Regions from separate parts of the Homo sapiens genome. Here region 1 is linked to region 2. The links come from fine-mapping of genetic effects on gene expression. A gene starts in region 2. The other region holds a variant in brackets. All regions are shown on one strand. Distances are between the middles of the regions. Region 1 overlaps SND1 (staphylococcal nuclease and tudor domain containing 1). Region 2 holds the start of SND1 (staphylococcal nuclease and tudor domain containing 1).

The links. PIP is the estimated chance that this variant, and not a neighbour inherited with it, causes the effect.
Region 1: its variant is fine-mapped to the expression of SND1 in monocytes (BLUEPRINT, PIP 0.95).

The regions. Positions count from the first base shown.
Region 1 is chr7:127,974,027-127,976,526 of GRCh38, forward strand. The region is part of intron 15 of SND1 (staphylococcal nuclease and tudor domain containing 1); the gene reads left to right. Among named protein-coding and RNA genes, the nearest start is that of SND1-IT1, 22 kb to the right of the region's middle. The variant CGTGTGTGTGT/C (reference allele first, on the strand shown) is at 1,398.
Region 2 is chr7:127,650,508-127,653,509 of GRCh38, forward strand. It overlaps SND1 (staphylococcal nuclease and tudor domain containing 1), which reads left to right and starts at 1,687. Exons shown (of 24, transcript NM_014390.4): 1 at 1,687-1,944. The coding sequence starts at 1,867. It overlaps SND1-DT (SND1 divergent transcript), which reads right to left and starts at 1,325. Exons shown (of 2, transcript NR_186577.1): 1 at 1,166-1,325. RefSeq lists a silencer at 1,236-1,485 and enhancers at 1,283-1,901, 1,726-1,905.

The DNA.
Region 1 (2,500 bases), 320 kb after region 2:
TCTCTGGGAGTGCTACTGTCTTCCAGCAAGCTAGGTGGCTTCTTCACTTACATAAGATGTGTGTGTTCTGGCAGGGAAGAGCTGCCTGAGTGAGTGTTTAGCAAAAATGATTTGTGTGGAGTTATTTTGAGACCCCAGGGAAGGGAATGGCAGCCAAAGCCTGCAGTATTTTAAACCACATCACTCATCCACAAAGATTTAATACGATACAGCATCTCAGCTAGAATATTGGTGAAGAGAAGTAAGAATGTTAGGGTCCCATCAGATTATAAATGCCCGTTATCTCCATCCACGCAAGGTGAATTTGGAGTGGTTTGGATCAAACTTGGTACTTGAAGATTCGTTCATGCTCCTTCTTTGATCTTGTCTGCCCTGGAAATACCAAATAGAAGACAGAGTTGCTTGCTGGGGGGTTGGCCTGGGCTCCCTTTGGAGCAGCGATTTCATTGCCCTCTCTCATTCACTACCTCGGGAGCCATTTGGTTTCCAAGGAGATACAGAAATGAGCCCACTTTTTATGCCGGTCCAAAATACTGACATTATTTAGGTGATTGAGCTTCTTCAGATTCCAGGCTGTCTAGGAGAATTCCCCTTCCAAAGCATTCACCTTTCCTCCTGACTCAGGCATGAACAGCTGTCTGCTAAGGGTGGGTGAATTCAAGAATATAGGATTTTCCAGTTTAGTGACATTAGGGGAGACAGCCTCCATATGAAACACTTCTCTTGTTTTTGTTTTTCTCTTGGCTGTTAGGCTGTGAAATTTGCCTCACCGCTCCCCCGCCCTTTTGCTGACAGCTGTCCTCTTTGCCATTCAGGAGCTGGTGTCTCCCTAGGATGGTTGACTGAGAAAGAAAAGGCCATCTTCCTTTGTCCCCTGGGTCTTGAGTTGTATTGCTGAAGAGCATCTTGTGTCAGGAGATCTAATTGCCTTCAGACCTGGGGGGATCCATTTGGGCCAGAGAGTGTCCAGGCACTTTGTGAATTGCAGAGGGAGTTACCCAAAGAGAAAAAGCCCTATTTGTGACTGGCCACTTGATTTTGTTTGTTTTGTTTTATATTTTTAGAGGACATACAATTTCTTTAATGATAAAAACTATGAAAACCAAAATACATTGTTACACAAAAGAGGCACACACAAACCATACAGCTTTTCAGACTCCCCAAATTTCCCTACAAGGACGTGCAGCGCATCGTTTTTCCATTAATTTAGGTGTTTTTGAGCAGGCCACTTGTTTACACCCCAGTATTGAGTTGAGTGTAGTAGGGAGACACTCAGGAGAAGCATTACTTGTGTTTGTATGTGTGGGCGCGCGCGCATGTGCGCACGCGCGTGTGTATGTGAGAGATTGACTCCCCTCGTGTGTGTGTGTGTGTGTGTAAGAGAGATTGACTCCCCT[CGTGTGTGTGT/C]GTGTGTGTGTGTGTGTGTGTGTGTAAGAGAGATTGACTCCCCTCTGCTTGCACCCCAGAGCAGCCAGCAATCAGAGTAAAAGGCTTCAGCTAAGTTTCTTTCTGCTTGTGATACTACACAAGAATGGCCTGACAGAGAGCAGGATTAAGATATGGTGGAGAGGGAACAAGGAACCAAAGTGAGTGAAAAGGCACAAACAAGCCAGCATCTACCAAAGTCGGCAGGATGGACAAAGGGAGCAGAGCAGGCAGCCAGCCTGGGGCTTTGGAAGACATGTGAAGGGTGTGAGGCTGGCAGATCACTACAGAAGGGGTGGCTCCTCTCTTTTGCCCTGGCATGAGACTTTCTTCTGTGCGCTGTAGCGCCGAGCACGCTACCCCGTTCTTCTCTCTGCTCCACTCCACTCTGACACCCCCACAGAGGTGCTCATGGCTGTTAGTAGGCAGGTCCGGCTCCATTCAGCATTCTTCCTACGTTCTTCCCAAATACCAGTTTCTGATTTGGGTCATTGTGACAGTTGCTATGTCCCACCATGGGCTTATACATGAGAGTTCAGCCCTCAGAGATGGCCACTGTGGTTTCCTTAGCCCCTCCTCCACCCTGTTCTCCTTTCCTCTCTTATTCCCCACCCTATTTCCTTGGGTGAGTGAGCACAGACAAGTGCACAAGCTCACACACACCCCTTGGCTGTCACAGGCACCAGGAACCCTGGTCGGGGAATGTGCTTTGTGGAGAGCTGTGTTCAGGAAGTTTACTCCTCCTCTCCGTAATCAGTCCTCGCCACTCCCTCCCCTGCCCCACCCTTATTAGAAATCCTGATTTCTGGCAAGCTTCCCATCCTGGTGCTGTCCTTCTTTTGTGCGGAGCACACTGGAGCAGCTTTCCTCTCCCTGGAAGACAGGCACAGCCTGATGGCACAAGTTAATACCTCCTGCATGGCTGCAAAAATAAAGACCAGATGCGGGTCTGTTGGGTACCTGATTTTCTCCCTCACTGCCCTCCTTCTTTTCAACTGAAGCTTTGTGTCCAGCATGACAGTTGAAATCCTGGTGCTTTGGTGCACTGTTGCCACACTGTGACAGGGGCTAAAAA
Region 2 (3,002 bases):
TACTGAAGATGAGATCAAGGAGCAAAGAGGTCAGGGTATGGGATAAGTCATGCTCGTAGATATTGAAGTATTTCAGGATTATTGGCTGAAGACCGTGCACCAAGTGTTAACAATTTCAATGAATGACACGGTAGAAATAGGGGTACGGTAGATAAAAAGCCACGAGATAGAGAGGGGTATAATCTGATGGAACCAACTTCCACAGAGGTTTTTTTTTTTTTTTTTTTTTTTTTTGGAAAAGGGTGGCAAATTAGGGATCTAAGAAGGTGACCTCAAAACTTAACCCTGGGATATGTTTAGTGTGGGAGAATAAACTTACAATCTTTTAAGAGAGCAAGGGGCCATGCACTGTGGTTAATGCATGTAATACCAGCACTTTAGGAGGCCGAGGTAGGAGTATAGCTTGAGCCCAGGAGACCAGCCTGGGCAACATAGTGAAATCTCAGCTCTACAAAAAAAAAATTAGCTGGGCGTGGTAGCGCGGACCCGTGGTACCAGCTCCAGCTACACCGGAGACTGAGGCAGGAGGATCGCTTGAGCCTGGGAGTGTCAAGGCTGCAGTGAGCCGTGATCGTGCCCCCGCACTCCAGCCTGAGCGACAGAGCGAGACTTTGTCTCAAAAAAGCCACAAAACCAAAGAAACAAAAAGAACTGCAAGGGAAGTACTGTCTTCAGTGTAGAGCCAAGTTTTACGATTAAATGACATAACACATGCAAGGTCCTTGGTTCCACATAGTGGGCACTCAACGAATATTAGTTCTCGCTAAACAGTCACTTAAATATTTGTAGGCCTTGGCTTTCCCGTTCCTTCCCCGACCTTTTTACTGGGGCTAGGGAAGGTATCCGGTGGCTGGAGGCGCTTCACACTGGGTCGGGTGAGAGCGTGAAGCGAGCCTTTTCCCTAACGTCACGGGAGCAGCTGGGAAGAGACCGAAGAACGAGGGTCACTCTCCCCTGTATACGTGGCATGTCCTTCCTCTGAGACATTTATTCCTCCCACCAACAAACATTAATGGAACGCCTCACAAGTGCTAGACCCCAGCGACACAAACAAGGGCGAGGCACACTCTCTGACTACAAAAAGGGCGCGCGGCCGCGTGGCAGGTCAAAGCCCACATCGGTAGGAGGTTCCACAAAGCTCTGATTTTCCAAGTTCTCTCCATACTTTTAGCCAAGGTAAAATGTCGGAAGTCGAGTGGAGCGGGTACGGAGATTCCTCCAGGACTCTGCCTGCGTGGCTCCACCCTCCCAGGCCGCATTCCCGGGTACAGCGGCGCCCACCTAGGTGGGTATACAAGTGTGCGCCCCTGAGGCCAGCGGGGAAGGACGTCATGGGCGAGGTCAGGCGGGAGGGCGCGGCTGGCTCCGCCCCTGGGGCTCCCATGGCCCCCCGCGCCCCGCGGCCAGATGCTGACGTGTCCTTTCCTTCCCACTACACCTCCCGACATTACCTACTCCGGCTGCCCCGGAAGTCCCGCCCCATATTTAGCCCATCCTTGCAAATCAACTCTTTCAGCGCTTCCTGGAACTCACCACCGTTTTGGGGACCAAGAGGCGGGGCTCCGCGAGCAGGGTGCCTATTGGCCTGAGGGCCGGCGGGCTCTGGGCGCTAATTGGGCGGAGGGCGGTGGCGCTCTGGCACGCTTGCGCGGCGAGTAGAACGTGTGGCGGCGGCGGAGATCGCGTCTCTTTCGCTCCGTGTCCCGCTGCTGCTCCTGTGAGCGCCCGGCGAGTCCGTCCCGTCCACCGTCCGCAGCTGGTAGCCAGCCTGCCCCTCGCCTCGACTCCCTTTCACCAACACCGACACCCACATTGACACCTCCAGTCCGGCCAGCCGCTCCACTCGTTGCCTTTGCATCTCCACACATGGCGTCCTCCGCGCAGAGCGGCGGCTCCTCCGGGGGACCCGCGGTCCCCACCGTGCAGCGGGGCATCATCAAGATGGTGAGAACGGGCCCCGGACACCGACCCCTCTGCCTGCCTTCGGGCGGGAGTCAGGCATTGACTCCACCTTCCGCCAGCCTGCTCCATGTCCCAGATCCCCTTTCCTCTGCCCCCTTCCTCACTTTTCGTCGATTCTCCGAATCCTCTCACTAGACGGAAGCAGACACGGAGTCCCCTTGTTCCTTGCCTCCCGGACACCTTGACATCAGGGGTCACAGTGATTTCCGAGGTTGCGGCATTCGGATCTCCTGTCTGTTTACCAGGACAGATCGATTACTGATTGATTAACAGAGACAATTCGTTGATATCTGTCCTCCCATCCCCCGTCTTTCTGTTCATTTTGACATATGCTGAGTAGTTAGTAGTTTTTCGAGATCCTGACATCGGCTCTTCTCTACTAGTACTTGGCCATCATGAAACTTTTCTGTTCCCACAAACGCTGTTACTTGACTCCCAAGTTTTCTCACTCTGTGGCCCTCTTTTCCTCTCTTTCCCTCCACCTCTTGTGTCGACCTGAAAGCTCCTGATCTTTGTGTACTTTTGACTTCTAAAAGGTTAGGCCGGCAAGAATCTTAGTAATCATCATTGTTCTCCCGTCCCTTAAAGATAAGGAGATAGGCTTGAAGAAGGCAAGTGACTTGCTTAAGGTCACATGGTGGTTTGGGTTGGAGCCATAGCAAGAGCCCAAGTGTTCGGATTCCTGGTCTAGTGCTCATAGCACTATAGATTCTGCCTGATTTTATATACCCTCAACTTTTTGAAAATTCTTCAATTTTGAATTTGAACCTGCAAAGTTTATTTTTACAATTTACTCCTAGCTCCATGATAATTTGATAATATAAATTCAGTTTATCACTTGCCCCCAGTTGTCCTCCCCAAAACCCTTCCAAATCTTGGAACCTGACATTTCTTGGTTTTACCAATTTTCTGGTTTATGATGACTGTAAACTTCTAGATGTCGTTTCATACTGCAGTTCTGACATTTGTATCTGCAACAGCAAATATCTTTTGTGATACTTTCTCCCAAGGCTCCACAAGTTTTGCTGTTGTAGAAAGTT